Homo sapiens: one gene and its partner. The protein of the gene in region 1 interacts with the protein of each later gene in a biochemical or structural test. Each region holds a gene or a part of one and is shown in the gene's direction. Other genes may lie near its edges. The genes, in order: CASP9 and NAIP.

Evidence for each region.
Region 2: the proteins of CASP9 (region 1) and NAIP interact in far-western blotting, tested with the Homo sapiens proteins (one study listed by BioGRID).

Annotation. Positions count from the first base shown.
Region 1 is NC_000001.11:15,505,687-15,515,995, reverse strand, and holds part of CASP9 (caspase-9 isoform alpha precursor), read left to right. Parts: intron 1-8,088; coding exon 8,089-8,123; intron 8,124-8,862; exon of another isoform or gene 8,863-8,920; coding exon 8,921-9,097; intron 9,098-9,916; coding exon 9,917-10,006; intron 10,007-10,309. UniProt on the Homo sapiens protein: Involved in the activation cascade of caspases responsible for apoptosis execution. Binding of caspase-9 to Apaf-1 leads to activation of the protease which then cleaves and activates effector caspases caspase-3 (CASP3) or caspase-7 (CASP7).
Region 2 is NC_000005.10:71,006,019-71,016,327, reverse strand, and holds part of NAIP (baculoviral IAP repeat-containing protein 1), read left to right. Parts: intron 1-3,409; 5' UTR 3,410-3,412; coding exon 3,413-3,980; intron 3,981-4,953; coding exon 4,954-5,053; intron 5,054-10,309. UniProt on the Homo sapiens protein: Anti-apoptotic protein which acts by inhibiting the activities of CASP3, CASP7 and CASP9. Can inhibit the autocleavage of pro-CASP9 and cleavage of pro-CASP3 by CASP9.

The DNA of each region.
Region 1 (10,309 bases):
TCCTGGCCTCAAGTGATCCACCTGCCTCAGCCTCCCAAAGTGCTGGGATTAAAGGTGTGAGCCACCACTCCCAGCCCATGCCTGGCCAATTTTAAAATTTTTTGTAGAGATAGGGTCTTACCGTGTTGCCCAGGCTGCCCTCAAACTCCTGTGCTCCAGTAGTCTGCCCACCTCGGCCTCCCAAAGTGCTGGAATTACAGGTGTGAGCCACTGCACTCGGCCCAAATTGTGTCATTTTATAATCTCACCAACTGCGAGTGAAGGTGACCACTTTCCCACATTCTTGCCAACAGTGAATATTGACATTTTTTCCTGTGTGATGGGTAAAAAGTGCTGTTTTCTTTCAACAAAAATTCACCAAAACTCATTCATATTGTTGTGCATATCAGTAGTTCATTCTTTTTAATTTCTAGATGGCAGCAGTTCCTGTTCTGAATAATCCACAATTTATTTAACCATTTTCCTATTGATGGACATGTGGGTTGTTTTCAGTTGGGGCTTTGTTCCCATGGCAGCGTGTGGAGCTCTAGCACTTCCTGTTTCATGGGTGCCTGGTGGACCATTGCATGGTATCAGAGTTAATATTCATAATAGTAATGGTGAACATTATTGAGTACTTGCTGCATAATGGTGATTTTTGGGCAATCCACTAAAGCAGAGAAACAGACAAACATGATAAGGGTAGGAAGCTGCATTTGCTTGAAGTGTAAGGAAGAAGACTGGTTCTGGAATTGGCCATGTGCATTACCATCCTGTAAAGGAGGCAGGCAGAATACAAAGCTCATCTGTTGTTATTTGGTTCTGGGAAATGTCAACGTGAGTCATTTAGGACCAACAGTCAGAATTTGAAACTTCCTGTTTTTTTGGAAGGTGTTTTATTTCCTGTTTCTTGTGAATATTTATTCCTAGTAGGAGCTTAATTCTGAAGGGTAAATAACAACAGCAATAGTAAGATCACTTAATTTTTTTTACTTTATTATTATTATTTTTTGAGATAGGGTCTTACTCTGTCACCCAGGGTGGAGTGCGGTGGTGTGTTTTCGGCTCACTGCAACCTCTGCCTCCCAGGTTCAAACAATTCTCTCACCTCAGCCTCCCAAGTAGCTGGGACTACAGGTGCACCACCATGCCTGGCTAGTTTTTGTATTTTTTGATAGAGACAAGGTTTCCCCATGTTGGCCAGGCTGGTCTTGAACTCCTGACCTCAAGTGATAAACCCGCCTCAGCCTCCCAAAGTGCTGGGATTATAGGTATGAGCCAGCACGGCTGGCCCAAGATCACTTTAAATAATGTGAATATCACTTTGTAGTATACACAGTGTTTTTTCAGGTCATCAAAACCACCCTGTGCCGTGGTAGACATGGCAAGCCCGTCTGTCATTATATGCTACTTACAGGGGAGGAAACTGGGTTCTGAGAGCAACAGTCACAAAGTGAGTTCCAGTACAGAGCTAGGACTTGGGCCTAGGTCTTCTGGCTTAATAGAGCGACTGTCCCATTTTCCATGAGCTGCTGAGAGATGTCCTTTTTAGATGCTGGGCCTTAGACTCCAGAGTACTGCATGGGAATGTTTCCCAAGGTAGGTTTCATGGTGACCCACAAAGGAAGAGCTGTGTATTCATATGTATGGGAAGGTCTGGCTGAGCAAGAATAGGGCCAGCAGCAGAGCCTTTAATAAGTGAATACAGGAAAGGATGCTGTAGGTCAGTGTTTCACACTGGGGACGATTTTTCCCCGACCTCCAAGGGACATTTGACAATGTCTAGAGACAAATCTGGTTGTTATAGCTGAGGGTGGGTGGGTGCTACTGGCATCTAGTGGGTAGACAGAGATGCTGCCAAAACCCAACAGTGTACAGAGTAGCTCTGCACAATAAAGAAGAATCTGGCCCAAAGGGTTAGTGTGGTGGGGCTGAGTACACACACTGCACTCATACATATTCATTGAGCATGAGTGTCAATGAATAATAATGTGGACACATCAGTTTTATTGAGTTGTCAAGTGTGTCGGGTATTGTTCTATGTGCCTCACATGTATTAATTGTTTGAGGTGTCATCACAATCCTATGAGGTTGGTAGTTGCTCCTATTATCCTGTAATACAGATGGGGAAATCAGAAGCCCAGAGACTCTGAGCTCCTTGCCCATTGTGACACAGGTGCTAAGTGTTGGAGTTGGGATTTGAACCCAAGTACCTCAGACTCACTCCATCACTGTCTCATGAAGAACAAATGGCTCATTCTCTTTCTTGTCCCTATATTTGTGCCATTACTCATTAGCTCACACAAATGTTTACTAAGTACCTGTTGGGTTCTAGGTGTTGGGGATGCAGCTTCGAACAAGGATGCCCAGTCCTTGCCTTCAGGTGGAGAGGGGCAGGTACTCAGTTCATGCTTGCCTAATTTGGTCTTTATTCACGGCTGTGGGTAGTGCTATGAAGCTGAACACGGTGCTTTAGAGGTGCATCATTAGGGGACCCACCAGAGAGAGTGGCTTTGTCTTTGTATATTCAAAGGAAAATGCCTTTTCCTTCAGAATGGAAGGAACTTTCTTAGTTTCAGACGTGATGCCTTGTGTGTAACTGCTTGTTCCAGCCAGGGCCTCTTGCCCGGGAGGACTGGGAGAACTGTTGGTGGCTGTGTTCTCATGATTCTCCAGAGAAAGAGAACCAATAGGGGGTGTGTGTATGTGTATAAAACAGCATCTTTTGTTCAATGCTGCATCCCCAACACCTAGAACTCAGCAGGTACTTAGTAAACATTTGCATGAGCTAATGATTAATGGCACATATACACAGACAAGAAAGAGAATGAGCCGTTCGTTTTTTTTTTTTTTTTTGAGACGGAGTCTTGTTCTGTTGCCCAGGCTGGAGTGCAGTGGCGCGATCTCCGCACACTGCAAGCTCTGCCTCCTGGGTTCACGCCATTCTCTCGCCTCAGCCTCCCGAGTATCTGGGACTACAGGCACCTGCCACCATGCCCAGCTAATTTTTTTGTATTTTTTTTAGTAGAGACAGGGTTTCACCATGTTAACCAGTATGGTCTTGATCTCCTGACCTCGTGATCTGTCCGCCTCAGCCTCCCAAAGTGGTGGGATTACAGGCGTGAGCCACTGCACCTGGCCAAGCCATTTGTCCTTTATGAGGCAGTGATGGAGTGAGTCCGAGGTACTTGGTTCAAAGCCCAACTCCAACACTTAGCAGCTGTGTCACAGTGGACAAGTAGTTGAGTCTCTGGGCCTCTGTTTTATATATATACATATACACACATACACACACGGATATATATAGAAAGATATATGCATTTTTTTTGTGTGTGTATATATATATATCTTTATCTAAAAACATATTTATTACAAGGAACAGGCTCATGCAATTATGGACGCTGAGAAGTTCCAAGATCTGCCATCTGCAAGTTGGAGACCAGGAAAGCTGGTGGTGTAGTTCCAGTCTGAGTCTGAAGGCCTGAGATCCAGGAGCACCAATGGTAGAAGTCCCATTCCAAAGGCAGGAGAAGACTGATGTCCCAGCTCAAGTAGTGAGACAGAGAGAGATCAAATTCTCCCATTCTCCACTGTTTCGTTCTATTCAGGCCCTTGACGGATTGGACGCGGCCCACCATCCTGGGGAGGGCCATCTGCTTTACTCTGTCTACCTATTCAAATCCCATTCTCATCCCCAAAACACTCTCACAGGCACCCTGAGAAATACTGTTATATTTAACCAAATATTTGGGTACCCTGTGATCTAGTCAAGTTGACCTGTGAACTCAACCATCAGTGGCTTTCTCTGCTCATGCCTTGCCTGGGTTGGAACTTCCTTGAAAGTAGAAGTTGGCTTTTCAGCCCTACCTGGCTTCTTGGTCTCTTTGCTCTGGGGCTGGTGGCTGTGCTCACCTCCCATTACAACTCAGGGTCTCTGAGCCCCCAATTCCCCTCTGGCAAATGGGGATGTGTGCCAGTACTTCTGTGCTGAAGGGCCTGCTCTGAGGAGTAAATGAGGCAGTGTGTGGAGGGACTTCACATGGGGCCTCCTATTGAGTGAGCCTTGGGTCTTGTTGGTCAGCTCTGCTTCCTTCTGTGATTTCTAAATTGCCAAGGGCTGGGGAGGGCCAGTCCTAGGGCATCTTCCCTTCTGTAGGGTCCCCCAGTTCCCCTGTTTCTTTCTGTGTCCTGATTGAAAATCACAGAGTGCTTTGACCACCCTGTGACCCAGCCAGCTACAGGTTTTTCCCAGCAGACCTGAGCCCAAACCTGGGCCTTAAACATTCTCAGGCATTGATAAAGGTATCTAGGTAGGCTGGGCATGGTGGCTCACGCCTGTGATCCCAGCACTTGGGGAGGCCAAGACGGATGGATCACTTGAGGCCAGTAGTTTGAGACCAGCCTGGCCAACATGATGAAACCCTGTCTCTACTAAAAATGCAAAAATTAGCTGGGCGTGGTGGTGTGTGCTTGTAATCCCAGCTACTTGGGAGGCTGAGGCAGGAGAATTGTTTGAACCTGGGAGACAGAGGTTGCAGTGAGCCAAGATTGTGCCATTGTACTCCAGCCTGGGCGACAGAGCGGGACTCTGTCTGAAAAAAAAAAAAAAATTAGGTGTGGTGGTGTAGTCCTAGCTACTTGGATGGCTTAGGAGGGAGGGTCACTTGAGCCCAGCAGGCAAAGTTTGCAATGAGTTGAGATTGTACCACTGCACTCCAGCCTGGACAAGAGAGTGAGACTCCGTCTCCAAAAACAAAACAAAACAAAAAGGTATCTAGGTTATCACCCAAAACAACTGAAAGAAACCAGCCTTGGCCCTGAGCCAAATTCCTTAAACCCTCATATAAACTCCTTACCCTGACCTCTTCACTTTGGACCAAACCTAGGTAGACACCTGTTTTTTTTTCTCGCCTCCGCACCTCGAGGATTGCTTTGGCCAGATCGCCCTGGCATTTATTGCTTCTTTCTTTGGAATCCCAACTGGCCCCATCTTAGGACAGTTTGGGGCACTCCCTTGTGGGAACTCTTCTGCTGCCACTTCTGGGGTGATTCCAGCATAGGTTCGGAGGGACGAAACCCCTTCTTTCCCTTGGGTGGCAGAGAGGATGTGCTTGCCCTCTTCTGTTTGTGTTGGAGACCTGGGCACATGCCCAGTGACTCAGGCTGGAAGACTGATTCTTTTGCACACACTTAGCCATGTGTGTTTATTGTCCCCATGGGAGTGGCCATTTCAGGAGAAACTGGTCTCATGCACCTTGTATCTGACCATGTCACCCAACTTGAGGGGCCCTGAACATGCCATGCTCCTGCATCCTCCCTGCCTTTGCTCATGCCGGGGCCTCTGCCTGGAGTGTCTCCTCTCCCTCTTTCTTTGGGCACCCCTTGGTTGATTTGCTCCCTCCATGGGCACCTGTAGCCCTTGGCCTCTTGAGAGCAGTCATTTTGCTTTATCAATAGATATTTCTAATTTGGGGAATGAGTGAATTCCTCAGTAGTGGATAGTAGTTATATTTTTGGGGTACAGCGGAATTTTGGAAATGAGCAAATGTTCTCAGAATGAAGTCTGTGGATGAATAGGAATTTTCAGGGTAGGTAAAACCATTTCTAACTTTAAAAATGGGATGTGAATGGGATGTGAGTGCTTTTCTGCTGTGGCCTTTAAGCTGGCAGAATAGTTCAGACCTGTTCTAAGCAAGGAATGGCACTGTTATTGGAACAGGAGTATGGGCTCCACTGCAACTTGGAGGTGGCCACTGTATTCTCCTTGTTTAAAAAAGAAAAAATGTAGGCCGGGCGTGGTGGCTCATGCCTGTAATCCCAGCACTTTGGGAGGGTGAGGCAGGTGGATCACCTGAGGTCAGGAGTTCGAGACCAGCCTGGCTAACATGGTGAAACCCCATCTCTACTAAAAATACAAAAATTAGCCAAGCGTGATGCAGGTGCCTGTACTCCCAGCTACTTGGGAGGCTGAGGCAGGAGAATCGCTTGAACCCAGGAGGCAGAAGTTGCAGCGAGGCAAGATCGCGCCACTGCACTCCAGCCTGGGTGACAGAGCGAGACTCTGTCTCAAAAAAAAAGAAAAAACATCTCATAACCTTTTAGGCTGGTGGCCAGTCAACTTCTTGCTAACGGAAATGAAAACTCTTTTGATGTTGATGGAAAATAATCATCTTTATTCATTTATTCATTCTGCAAGTATTTCCTGAGGACCTGCTGTGTGCTGGGCCCCTGTGGACTCGCAGACAGTGAGCATCCGCTCTCCTGAGCTTCTCTCACCTCTTTCTGCTCTGGAATTTCTTCTCAATGAGACCACACTATTTCTATACTCTCTGGTGTCTGGCTTTTTTCACGCAGCACGTTTTCTTTCTTTTTTTTTTTTTTGAGATGGAGTTTTGCTCTTGTTGCCCAGGCTGGAGTGCAATGACGTGATCTCGACTCACTGCAACCTCTGCCTCCCAGGTTCAAGCGATTCTCCTGCCTCAGCCTCCCGAGTAGCTGGGATTACAGGCGCCTGCCCCCTCGCCTGGCTAATTTTTCTTTTTTTTTTTTTTTTTTTGTATTTTTAGTACAGATGGGGTTTCACCACGTTGGCCAGGCTAGTCTCGAACTCCTGACCTCAGGTGATCTGCCTCCCAAAGTGCCAGGATTATAGGCGTGAGCCACCGCACCTGGCCTTACGCAGCACATTTTCAAGGTTATCCCGCATTGCGTGTATCAGTGAAGCGGTGTCACTCGTCTGGGGTAAATACCCAAGATTCATTGTCTTCACAGCCACGGAAGACTAGGACACGGACATACAGTGAGGTTCAGAGTGGAAGTATAATAGGTGAAAGAAAGAGAAGAGCTCTGTCTGCTGCAGAGAGAGGGGTTCCAGTGAAATGGGTTGCTGTTTCTGCAATGAAATGCAAGGGGTTTTAAAGATGAGCCTGAGGAGATGGTGTCTGATTTACAAAGGGCACAAAGATTGGTCAGACCAGGTGTTTCATTTGCATAGGATGCATAAAACTGGTTAGGGCTAGGTGTGCCATTTGCATGTGGTGCGAAAAGCTGGCCAGCCCCACTCCAATCTTGTGTTATGCAGATGGGTTCTCTACCTGGCCAGTGCCATGTTGCCTACTTCTTTACTGTCTTGTGGTAACAAAAGGGAAGATAGAGCCTCTTTGCTGAGTATATCTGGCCCCCTGGTAGCCCTTTTCTATTGGCACAGCTGCTGGCATTCACTCCTGTGAGCTTCCAGCTTGCTTATCTATGTCTGCAGCTTGATTTTTCAGGCTGCTCTTTTTTAGAAAAGAAATGATTTGAGGCTGGGTGCAGTGGCTCACACCTGTAATCTCAACACTTTGGGAGGCTGAGGTGGGTGGATCAACTGAGGTCAAGAGTTTGAGACTAGCCTGGCCAACATGGTGAAACCCCGTCTCTACTAAAAATACAAAAAAATTAGCCGGGCATGGTGGTGGGTGCCTGTAATTCCAGCTACTTGGGAGGCTGAGACAGGAGAATTGCTTGAATCTGGGAGGTAGAGTTTGCAGTGAGCCAAGATAGTGCCATTGCACTCCTGCCTGGGCGACAAGAGTGAAACTCCGTCTCAAAAAAGAAAAAGAAAAAAGAAAAAAAAGAAAAGAAACGATTTGGGGATTTTGTTAAAAGGGAAATTCTGCCGAGGACTGTTTTACCCTCACTATCTGCCTAAATAATTTCTTTCTGTCTCCTGTATCATCAGTAGCTCATTCCTTTTTAGGCTGTGTAATGTTCTCTTGTGTGGCTGTATCACAATTTGTATATCTACCAAACTGTTGTTAGATTGGTTGTTTCCATGTTGGGGCGTGATGAATAAGGCCTCAGGGAACATTTTGGCCAAGTCTTTTGTGCCCGTTTGCACTCCTTGCTCTTTGATATATACCTAAGGGTGGACTTGCTGTCAGAGGGTAGGTGTGTGTTTAACTTTGTTAGAAACCTCTAAACAGATCTCCAAGGTGGCTCTCCCACCAGCAGAGTCTGAGGGTCTGAGTTCTCGCTGCTCCGTTCTTGGGGGGCTGTCCTCACAGAGCCCCTTGCCCCTCCTCTGCTGTAACCCAACATTCATGTTTCTCTCTTTCTCTGCCTCTTCAGGTGCTCTTGAGAGTTTGAGGGGAAATGCAGATTTGGTGAGTCTCCATGAAATTTGGGCCAGTAGCTCGGGCTCTGGGCCCTTCCCTCCCCACCCCTCAGGTCCTTCCCTGCAGGTGTGTCAGGAGCCCAGGGAACCCAACCCTAGGCAGTGCAGTGGGGGTCTGGTCTCAGCCTCCCTGACTCCGGCCCAGCGCCTGCTGGGGCAGATTGTTCATCTCTGCGCTTCCTCATCTGCAAAGCTGACAGCAGAAGCAGGGCAGACCTGATGAGGGGCAGTCATCGGGATCCAGACCAAGTCGCCACTCTCTCATTCACAAGTATTTATTGTGTGGCTCCCATGCTCTGTGCTGGGGCCACCTGGGAAGGAGCCATCAGTCAGTTAGGCGAGAGAGAAGTTAGACAAATGAGTATATAAATAGAAATAGTGATAAGTACCATCAACAAAAGAACAGGCTGCCTTGAGAGAATTACAAGGGGACTGAGCCTGGGGAGAGGGCAGCCTTGGGTGCCTCCAGGTGGCCTGGGCATGGTTCTGCTGACAGAGTTCTCAGGTACACCCCGGCCTAGGTGACCCGTGAGGTCCTTTGGGATGAATGCTCATGGCTGTTGGATTTCCAGGTTACCAGCTCCCTTCCCTTAATACCAAGATGGGGGGGTCACCTTCTAGTGCTAGTCTTCCCTGCAGTTGCTTCTCTTTTGCCCTGGAATGCCGGGTGGAGACCCTGCTACTCCTTGTGCGAGAGGGCAGACCCCGTTTTCTTCCCGCCTCTCCAGACTGTCCTCTAGGGAGCGTGGGGAGAGCCCGGGTTTACGTGGGTCCCTGTGCTGGCAGGCTTACATCCTGAGCATGGAGCCCTGTGGCCACTGCCTCATTATCAACAATGTGAACTTCTGCCGTGAGTCCGGGCTCCGCACCCGCACTGGCTCCAACATCGACTGTGAGAAGTTGCGGCGTCGCTTCTCCTCGCTGCATTTCATGGTGGAGGTGAAGGGCGACCTGACTGCCAAGGTACACTCACTATCTGTGGAGGGAGACAGGGTGGGGGGCAGTGGGTGGGGAAGTATCTTTTGAGGGACTCCAAAAGCCAGCTGACTCCCCAGGCGAGCCCTTACATCTGGAGGACCATGGGAGGTAGGACGGCCCAGCGGCTACAGGTTCAAGTTCAGACGCAGAAGTCCGGGTTTGAGGACTGGCTCTCTCGGCCACCTGCTGTGTGACCTCCTGTGCCTCAGTTTCCTTGTCTGGAAAGCAGGAATAGTACCTGCCTCCTTGGGTTGTTTTGGGGGTTAGATGAACAGTGCCCAAGCGTAGCACCTTCTCCCCAAAAATGGTGGCTATTACGACTGCTGGGACTGTCAGCACTTCGGTACTGGCCCTGGGAAACCGAGAAAGTGCTCTGCCCAGGCGTTTGGGTTGGGCCCTTTGTTGTTTTATTTTTTGGGGGGGGCGGGGGCACAGAGTCCCACTCTGTCATCCAGGCTGGAGTACAGTGGCGCGATCTCGGCTCACTGCAACCTCCACCTCCCAGGTTCAAGCAATTCTCCTGCCTCAGCCTCCTGAGTAGCTGGGATTACAGGTGTGTGCCACCATGCCTGGCTAAATTTTTTTTTTTGTATTTTTAGTAGAGACGGGGTTTCACCATGTTGGCCAGGCTGGTCTCGAACTCGTGACCTCAAATGATCCACCTGCCTTGGCCTCCCAAAGTGCTGGGATTACAGGCGTGAACCACCATGCCTGGCCAGGCTGGGCCCTTTTATTGTTAGGAACGGTCCAGTCTGCATCTAGACCTATCCGTGCTTCTGGCTCACCTGCAGCCCTCTCTTGTAGAAAATGGTGCTGGCTTTGCTGGAGCTGGCGCAGCAGGACCACGGTGCTCTGGACTGCTGCGTGGTGGTCATTCTCTCTCACGGCTGTCAGGTAGGAAGCCTCCCACTGTTCCCTGGGCAGGCATTGGGTACTGGCCGTGCCAAGAGGCTGTGCAGGGGCCATGTCCCTTCTTGTGTCCAAAACACCCTTGGCTTTGTGGAAAAGGGCTGTGGGGCCCTGCCCACCTCCTGTTGTTTTCTTGGGAGCCATGTGGTCCTCTGAGGAGTTGGCTGCACCGTCCTGGGCAGGTCGGTGTTCCTGGGAGAAGCCCTCTGGGAGAGGGAGGGCAGAGACCAGGTCTGCTCACGAAGCTCCTGCACCCAGAGTTTGTTCAGAGGCGGGTACAGCACACAT
Region 2 (10,309 bases), on another chromosome or scaffold:
TTTATTGAACTGTACATTTTATTTACTTTTTTTAGAGACAGAGCCTCACTCTGTTGTCCAGGCTGGAGTATAGTACTGCAATCATAGCTCCCCGCAGCTTCATATTCCTGGGCTCAAGAGATCCTTCCACCTCAGCCTCCCACGTAGTTAGGACTACAGGCACATGCCACCATGCCCCGCTAAGTTTTCGTTTTCTTAAAAAAAAAGTTTTTTTAGAGACAGGGTCTAGCTATGTTGCCCAGGCTGATCTCAACTCCTGGTCTCAAGCAATCCTCCCGCCTTGGCCTCAAGAGCATTGGGGTTATAGGTATGAGTCACCGCACCCTCAGTTGTTCATTTTAAATGGGTGAATTTTATGATGTGTGAATTATATTTCTTTCTCTTTTTTTGAGATGGAGTTTCACTCTTGTCGCCTAGGCTGGAGTGCAGTGGTGCGATCTCGGCTCACTGCAACCTCTGCCTCGTGGGTTCAAGCAATTCTCCTGCCTCAGCCTCCCGAGTAGCTGAGATTATAGGCATGCGCCACCATGCCCAGCTATTTTTTTTGTATTATTAGTAGAGATGGGGTTTCACCATGTTGGCAAGGCTAGTCTTGAACTCCTGGCCTCAGCCCCCCAAAGTGCTGGGATTATAGGTGTAAGCCACCACAGCCAGCCCCAACTAGCTGGGACTACAAGCACGTGCCACCACACCTGACTAATTTCTTTTTTTTTTTTTTTTTGTATTTTTAGTAGAGATGGGGTTTTGCCATGTTGGCCAGGCTGGTCTCAAACTCCTGACCTCAGGTGATCCACCCACCTCGGCCTCCTAAAGTGCTGAGATTACAGGCATGAGCCACTGCTCCCGATGGATTATATTTCAATATAATTCAATTATGCAATATAATTGCATAATTGTTATCATCTCTCCCTGATATATTATCGGAATGGATGTGACATCTGAATGGGGATGCTGTTGAGGAAAGAGATTTCATGAAATGTACAGTGAGTGGCATAATTGTGGCTCACTGTAACCTTGAATTCTTGGGCTCAAGTGATCCTTCTGCCTCTGCTCCCCGAGTAGCTGGGACTACAGGCATGTGCCAACACATCTGGCTAATTTTTAAAATTTTTTGTAGAGACAAGGATCTCACTAAGTTGCCTAAACTGGCCTCAAACTCCTAGCCACAAACAATCCTCCCACCTTGGCCTCCCAAAATGCTGGGATTACAGGTGTGAGCCTCCACACTTGGCCACTTACTTTCTTTTTGATTCCTATTTCAGGAGAAAATCATAATCAATTTGCATTTGTGTGGAAAGGCCACCAATGCACATTTAAGCTGCTCCCACAGGACATTTAAATTATCTTGCTTATTGCTACAACCTAATGAGGAACAACTTAGATTTGATTGCACTGGAAAATACTATATCTTTTTTTTGTTTGTTTGAGATGGAGTCTCACTCTGTCACCCAGGCTGGAGTGCAATGGCGAGATCTTGGCTCACTGCAACCTCTGCCTCCCAGGTTCAACTGATTCTCCCGCCTCAGCCTCCTGAGTAGCTGGGATTACAGGCACCCACCATCATGCCCGGCTAATTTTTTTTATTTTTGTAGAGATGGGGTTTCACCATGTGGGCCAGGCTGGTCTTGAACTCCTGACCTCAGGTGATCTGCCCGCCTCAGCCTCCCAAAGTGCTGGGATTACAGGCATGAGCCACTGCGCCCAGCTAATACTATGTCTTATTATATTGATGATAATAATGTTAATCTCTCAATCCAAATATCCAGCTAAGACTGAATTGGAAGTGCTTGTTAATCATATAACCACCAGGGAGGGATGATTAACTGGCTAAAATGCAAGGCTTAGAATAAATGGTAAAATTCTTAGAAATTACTTGGGCTAGGCTGGGTGTGGTGGCTCACGTCTGTAATCCCGGTGTGGGAGCTGAGATTGCGCCACTGCACTTCAGCCTGGGCGACAAGGACAAGAGTGGGAAGCCAAGGCAGGCGGATCACTTGAGGTCAGGAGTTGGAGACCAAGCTGGCCAACATGGCAAAACCTTGTGTCTACTAAAAATACAGAAATTAGCCGCAATTGGTGGCACGTGCCTGTAATCCCAGCTACTCAGGAGGCTGAGGCAGGAGAATTGCTTGAACCCAGGAGGCGGAGGTTGCAGTGAGCCGAGGCCACGCCACTGCACTCCAGCCTGGGTGACAGAGTGAGACTGTCTAAAAAAAAAAAAAAAGGAGGAATTACTTGGGCTAGAGCCACTAGAAACATTCCCAAACAACCAAAATTAAGTTGCTAGCTACAAGACAGAGGAAAAAGGCACGAAAATTAGTTCAATTTCTTGGTTCCTGGAGAAATCACATACCATGTTTGGGAATTTTATCAACCCTTATTCTCGAAGTTAAGAGGGAATGGGGAGCTAATTTACATGGGGCTTTGAAAAATGAACAAATGGGAGACTTTTTGGGAACTTCGAAGAGATTACTTTGGGGCCATAGCACCTCAGTGTTCAAATGATGTTAGCAATGTCAGCAACCGACTCACGCTGATGGAGCTTCTTACCAAAGCCCGTGACTGCCCCTCAGGGATGGTCATGGGGATTTGACACTAGAAAGTTACCCGAGGCTTCTGGCAGGTATATGTCCTTTGAAAAACAGTCATTGGCCTGTTACTGAGCTTCTTTTTTTTTTTTTTTTTTTTAAGACGGAGTCTTGCTCTGTCACCCAGGCTGGAGTACCGTGGCGCGATCTCGGCTCGCTGCAAGCTCCACCTCCTGGGTTCACGCCATTCTCCTGCCTCAGCCTCCCGAGTAGCTGGGACTACAGGCGCCCGCCACCACGCCCGGCTAATTTTTTTTGTAGTTTTAGTAGAGATGGGGTTTCACCTTGTTAGCCAGGATGTTCTCCATCTCCTGACCTCGTGATCCACCTGCCTCGGCCTCCCAAAGTGCTGGGATTACAGGCGTGAGCCACCGCGCCCGGCCAGAGCACCGAGACTTAAAACATGAACACAAAATAATGATTTTTTAAAACTGAGTAATTCGATCAAATTGTTGCTGCCAGGCTATACAATTTTGTCTATGTTTTTCTTTAATATAAATGTTCAGTATATGCTCATGTTACCACATTGTGTCCATAACTGATATCTGGAAAGCTTCATGAATGGAGGCAGATGGGTGTCTGTCTTGTTGGTTGCTAGATCCCCAATGTCTAGCACTGTACCTGATATATAGTAGGTGCTTAGTAAATATTTGTTGATTAAGTAGATGAATACTGATGTTTCATAATTTTCCAACAATTTATCTTTTGTGTTGAAATTCCAGGCATTCCTTTAATTCCTGGTTTCTTCGGAAACAGTGGGAAATGCTCTTCTAAGAAAAATCTTACTATAAGGGATCAACCTGCTTTATTTTCCTTTTCAGAAAATGGCCACCCAGCAGAAAGCCTCTGACGAGAGGATCTCCCAGTTTGATCACAATTTGCTGCCAGAGCTGTCTGCTCTTCTGGGCCTAGATGCAGTTCAGTTGGCAAAGGAACTAGAAGAAGAGGAGCAGAAGGAGCGAGCAAAAATGCAGAAAGGCTACAACTCTCAAATGCGCAGTGAAGCAAAAAGGTTAAAGACTTTTGTGACTTATGAGCCGTACAGCTCATGGATACCACAGGAGATGGCGGCCGCTGGGTTTTACTTCACTGGGGTAAAATCTGGGATTCAGTGCTTCTGCTGTAGCCTAATCCTCTTTGGTGCCGGCCTCACGAGACTCCCCATAGAAGACCACAAGAGGTTTCATCCAGATTGTGGGTTCCTTTTGAACAAGGATGTTGGTAACATTGCCAAGTACGACATAAGGGTGAAGAATCTGAAGAGCAGGCTGAGAGGAGGTAAAATGAGGTACCAAGAAGAGGAGGCTAGACTTGCGTCCTTCAGGAACTGGCCATTTTATGTCCAAGGGATATCCCCTTGTGTGCTCTCAGAGGCTGGCTTTGTCTTTACAGGTACCTTGAAATTATTCTCTGAAGTGTTTCTCTGGCGTTTTAAGTTTAGGTTTTATTTTTCAATTGCTTTTGCAATATTTTGCTAAACTTTCTTCACTGGTTAAATGTGTTATATTAGGTATAAGGTCTAGTTTATTAAAATTCAACATCAATATTTTTATTTTTGCTTCATTTTCTATTTAGTACAGCCTGTGTTAATTTGTCAAATATATATAAAATAAGAAAGTTACGTCTCCTTAAACTTGGACCTTAGAAAATACTGGCTGTATTCTTAAGGTCCTGAAAAGATTAAATAACTCATGCGGTCATCCTGATCCCAGTCTCCTCACCCACCCTCCTTCTACTGCTCTTACATGATCTTTCTTTGATTCTTCTCATTGCTGCAGTATTGGAGGGTTTTGTTTGTTTGTCCTAGCCCCGCCATAGGGGTTATGATATATAAATCAGAGTTCTAACAATAACAACGATCATTTACTGAGTACTGTACCTACTTTATGCTAGGCATAGAGTGAGTACTAATTCTTATCCAATGAATTTACCCCTTTCTCTCCCATTTCACAGCTGAGTTCATGGAGGCTCAGAGACTTTAAGAAACATGCCTATGTTTCTACCGAAATGTCATGGCAAGGCTAAAACGTAGGTTTTCTAATTGCACGTTACTTCAGCTGGTCCTGGTGTTAGTCGGCTTCCCTATCACTTTGACCCTGAGAACTCAAAGAGCAACATACCAGCTCTGGGGGGCAGCTGGGGCAGGATATTGAGTTACACAGCTTAGGGTTCTGTACCTAGAGCACGGCTGTGGTGGAGGGGCCCATTTTGGGTGGTGGGATTGAGGATGGAGACTCAGGCCAATGAGATCGGGAGTGCACAGCCACGCTGGAGCTTGTCTTGCTCCTGAACAAAACAATCAACTCTGTGTACATACCCCCTGGTGCCACTGCCAGGCAATCTAAATATTTTCCTTCATATATAGGTAAACAGGACACGGTACAGTGTTTTTCCTGTGGTGGATGTTTAGGAAATTGGGAAGAAGGAGATGATCCTTGGAAGGAACATGCCAAATGGTTCCCCAAGTAAGTAGATAATTTTTGCTTAAATGTTTCTTTCTTTTTTTTTTGAGACAGTCTTGCTCTGCCACCCAGGCTGGAGTATAGTGGCATGACTTCAGCTCGGTGCAAATTCTCCCTCCCTGGTTCAGGTGATTCTCCTGCCTCAGCCTTCTGAGTAGCTGGGATTATAGGTGTGCACCACCAAGATGGGCTAATGTTTGTATTTTTAGCAGAGATGGGGTTTTGCCATGTTGCCCAGGCTGGTCTTGAGCTCCTGAGCTCAGGCAGTCCACCCACCTAGGCCTCCCGAAGTGCTAGGATTACAGGCGTGAGCCACTGTGCCTGGCTAAATTTTTCAGTTCTTTAAAAGACAAAATGAAAGACAAAAGAGCCACCTTTCTGGAGTAGCACCTTCAGTTTTGATCTTTCCCTATTCAAAATTGGACCACTCCAGGATTTATTCAAGCAGGAAAGGCCTAATTACATTGTGAAAAGTTTGAATTATAGAATTTTAAACAGTTTTTAAGTATTTCATTATCCCAAATTCTAAGATAGGTTTTGCCCAGTAGAAGTTTCATGATCTGCCTTAATTAATAAATAAGGCTGGAAGTGGTGGCCCACACCTGTAACCCCAGCACTTTGGGAGGCCAAGGCAGGAGGATTGCTTGAAATCAGGAGTTTGAGACCAGCCTGGCATGTAGAGACCCTGTTTCTACAAAAATAAAAAAAATTGGCCAGGCGCGGTGGCTCACACCTGTAATCCCAGCACTTTGGGAGGCTGAGGCCGGTGGATCCGAGGTCAGGAAATCAAGACCATCCTGGCTAACACGGTGAAACCATGTCTCTACTAAAAATACAAAAAATTAGCCGGGAACGGTGGCGGGTGCCTGTAGTCCCAGCTACTTGGGAGGCTGAGGCAGAAGAATGGTGTGAACCCGGGAGGCAGAGCTTGCAGTGAGCCGAGATAGCGCCACTGCACTCCGGCCTGGGCGACAGAGTGAGACTCCGTCTCAAAAAAAAAAAGTTAGCCAGGCATGGTGGCGTGTACCTGCAGTCCTAGCTACTTGCGAGGCTGAGGCAGGAAGATTGCTAGAGCCCAGGTAGTCAAGGCTGCATTGAGCCGTGATCAAGCCACTGTGCTCCAGCCTGGGTGACAGAGTGAGACCCTGTCTCTAAAACTAATTAAATAAGTAATAATAATTTCCATAGGGGTGGTGTAAAATGGTGTATGCTGGAAGGTAAAAAATATTTAAACATTATTACAAATGGTTTCATGTACTGCTAAATATATACCAAATGAAAACACTGTATTTTTAAACCTCAGAAAGAGTTTTTATTACTGCAGTGGTCTTTAGTTCCTGGCTTAGAAAAGGAAGTACATTTTAATTATTTTTAATGCTATATTTACTAGTATTTTCTACATGACTTTCTTTGTTTCTACCAAGTACAGATTCATTCCTTTAACAAGTTTTTAAACTTTCACTGTGTAAAATTTCATACAAAGATAGAATAGTGTAATAAATACTTGTCAACACATAGCCAAATCATATTTCATCCATCTCCTACCCACCTTTTTTCCTGGAAATAATAACAATAACTATATTTTTATTTTATTTTATTTGAGACAGAGTCTCGCCCTGTTGCCCAGTGGTACGATCTTGGCTCACTGCAACCTCCACCTCTCAGGTACAAGTGATTCTTGTGCCTCAGCCTCCGAGTAACTGAGATTACAGGCATGCACCACCACACCTGGCTAATTTTTGTAATTTTAGTAGAGATGCGGTTTCATCATGTTGCCCAGGCTGGTCTGAAATTCCTGGCCTCAAGTGATCCACCCACCTTGGATTCCCAAAGTGCTAGGATTACAAGCATGAGCCACCTGTGCCTGACCAAGATTTGTTGTTTTCTTTCTTTCTTTTCTTTTTTTTTTTTTTTTGAGAGTGAGTTTTGCTCTGTTGCCCAGACTGGAGCCCAGACTGGAGTTTAGTGGTGCAATCTCAGCTCACTGCAACCTCCACCTCTCAGACTCAAGCAATCCTCCCACCTCAGCGTCCTGAGTAGCTGGGACCACAGGTGCCTACCACCATGCCCAGCTAATTTTCATATCTTTTATAGCGACAAGGTTTCACTTTGTTGCCCAGGCTGGTCTGGAACTCCTGGTTCTACAAACTCCTGGGCTCAAGTGATCCTCCCACCTCAGCCTCCCAAAGTGCTGGGATTACAGGCATGAGCCACTGTGCTCAGCCCCTTAAGATTTTTAATTCGTAGATTTCCTCTTTATCCATCTCTTTTTTCTTGTCACTTATTTGTTAAAGAAGCCATGTAATCTGTCCTGTAAAATTCCCTCTACTCTAGATTTGGCAGAATGTGTTCCTCTGGCATAGTCTAACATGTTCCTCTACCTTCTGCATTTCCAGGAACCTGACACTTGGATCTAGCAGTTTGGTCAGGCTCAGATTCTATTTTCTTTCTTTCTTTCTTTTTTTTTTTTTTTTTTGTGACAGTCTCACTCTGTTGCCCAGGCTTGAGTGCAGCGGTGCAATCTTGGCTCACTGCAACCTCTGCCTCCTGGGTTCAAGCGATTCTCCTGCCTCACCCCACCCAGGTCTGGGATTATAGGTGCGCACTGCCACACCTGACTAGTTTTTGTATTTTTAGTAGAGACGGGGTTTCTCCATATTTGCGAGGCTGGTCTCGAACTCCTGACTTCAGGCAGTCCACCTGCCTCGGCCTCCCAAAGTGCTGGGATTATAGGCATGAGCCACCGTGCCCAGCCTCAGATTCTATTTTCTTTAACAAATATTTGTCACACACCTACTACATGCAAAGTTGTTGGTTGGATACTAAATTAACTACAAAACTGGACACAGTTATTTACATTTATAAGTCATCTTGCACATGGACAGCCATGCCCACAAAAGTGAATGGAGGCCCGGCATGGTGGCTCATGCCTGTAATCCCAGCACTTTGGGAGGCTAAGGTAGGCGGATCATTTGATGTCAGTAGTTCAAGACCAGCCTGGCTAACATGGTAAAACCCTGTCTCTATTAAAAATACAAAAATTGGCCAGGCGTGGTGGCAGGCACCTGTAACCCCAGCTACTTGGGAGGCTGAGGCAGGAGAATTGCTTGAGCCCGGGAGGCAGAGGTTGCAGTGAGCTGAGATCGCACCACTGCACTCCAGCCTGGTCAACACAGCGAGACTCCATCTCAAAAAAAAAAAAAAAAAAAAAAAAGGCTGGGCACAGTGGCTCACACCTGTGATCCCAGCACTTTGGGAGGCCAAGGCGGGCAAATCACTTGAGGCCAGGAGTTCATTCAAGTGATGAACTCTCCTCTCCCCTCTTCCCTCTCTCCTCTCTCCTCTCCTATCTCCCCTCTTCCCTGGCCAACATGGTGAAACCCCATCTCTACTAAAAATACAAAAATGAGCCGAGCGTGGTGGTGCGTGCCTATGGTTCCAGCTACTCGGGAGGCTGAGGCAAGAAATTGCTTGAACCTGGGAGGCGGAGGTTGCAGTGAGCCAAGATCACTCCACTGCACAGCAGCCTGGGCAACAGAGTGAGACTCCATCTCAAAAGAAAAAAAAAGTGAATGGATATCTTTGATATGTTTTGATACGTTGTGTGGGAAAGCAATATGCACAATAAGTGCAGTGTGAGACTTTGAAAATGTTTAAAACCACTCAAACTATATATGGAGTTGCTTGAAAATATATAGAAAACCTTATGAAAATATGTAAACCAAACTGTAGATACTTCTGGATCTGGATTTGTCAGGGGGTGAAGTAGTGATGGATTTTCACATTTATTTTGTTCATTGCTGTCTTGTTTAAATTTTTGGAAACAAGTATATATTACTTTCATAGTTGAAAAGAAAGTGAGGAGATTAGGAGGGAGGAAGTAAACAAGGGAGGAGAGGAGAAAGGCAGGAAGAGGAGAGAGAGAAAGTTAGACAAGTAGATGAGATAGTTATAGGGACGAATGAAGCTAGAATTGTGAAATCATTTGACAGTCACTCTGGCTCCCTGACGAATCAAAACAGCCACCCAGGCAGTCCTTGTCCATGCTGACAGTGCACCATATATGCATATGTAACAGGGAACAGCAGCCCCGGCTGGAGCACAAGCCGCTGCTCGTGGGCACCTGTCTCAGCTCTAGCCTCAGCTCAGGCTTCACTTAGCCTCAGGGTCACTGTGTTTAGTGTCGCTGGGTTATACACTGGACAAGTACCAGTGGCACCACTCACACATGATCACATTATCATGTGACTAGCACCTACTAGAGCCGCACATCCTGTCTGGAGGGGCCTTCATATGCCTTCTCTAACATAGTCAGAGGGTAAGGTAATAAGCACAGGGAGGGGAGACAGCAGTCCAGCAACCACTCCTAGAGAGGAAGGAGTTCAGGCCAGCAAACAAGGGCAGGGGGTAGTGCAGAGGCTTAGGAGATAGAGCCAGGCTTGAATCTGCTGCTACCTGACTACCAGACCCTAGGCAGGTGACTGACCTTGTCTGAATCTCATATGTAAAATGCAGTGTCAACAACAACAAAAAAATTAGAGACAGATATCCCCAAATATGTCAAATTTATTCAGGAATAAGAAAAGAGGGTTATGATTTGGAATGCACTACTGTAAACCACAGGCACGTGCAGTGAGGGAAGAGTAAAGGGAATTTTTCTTGGCAAAAGGGAGAAGTTCACATAAGCTGCTTAGAAACAGAGTTCATAGCTGGGCATGGTAGCTCATACGTGTAATCACAGCTATGTGGGAGGCTGAGGCGGGAGGGTCTTTGGAGGCCAGGAGTTTGAGACCAGCCTGGGCAATGTGATGAGGCTCCAGTTTCTTTAGAGAGAGAGGAGAGAGGGGAGAGGGGAGAGGAGAGAGAAGACAGGGGACGGGGGAGAGGGGAGAGGAGAGAGGGCAGAAGAGAATTCCTTGGTTCTGAAGGCTCAAAGCCAGAGTTCTTGTGTGTTCATTGGTGGAGATGCTGTTCCTGGGCAGGTGTTCTTTTGACAGCATCTCATCTCATGTTATCTTATCTGAATTGCTGCAGTCCAAAAGAATGTGCAGTGATAAACCTTGCCATAGAAATATGTGCGTACATGCAAGCAATGCAAAGCAGGAGATGCGTGACAGGCGTGAAGGGATTTCTTATGGGATTCTTAGAAAGTCTTTGGAACCGTTCCTGTCTTGGACATGAAAGCCTGAACCCCACTCCTTCGTGCCTTCCCAGCCCTATTTTGTGTGGGTCTGATAAAAGTGATTTCATCTTGGTATC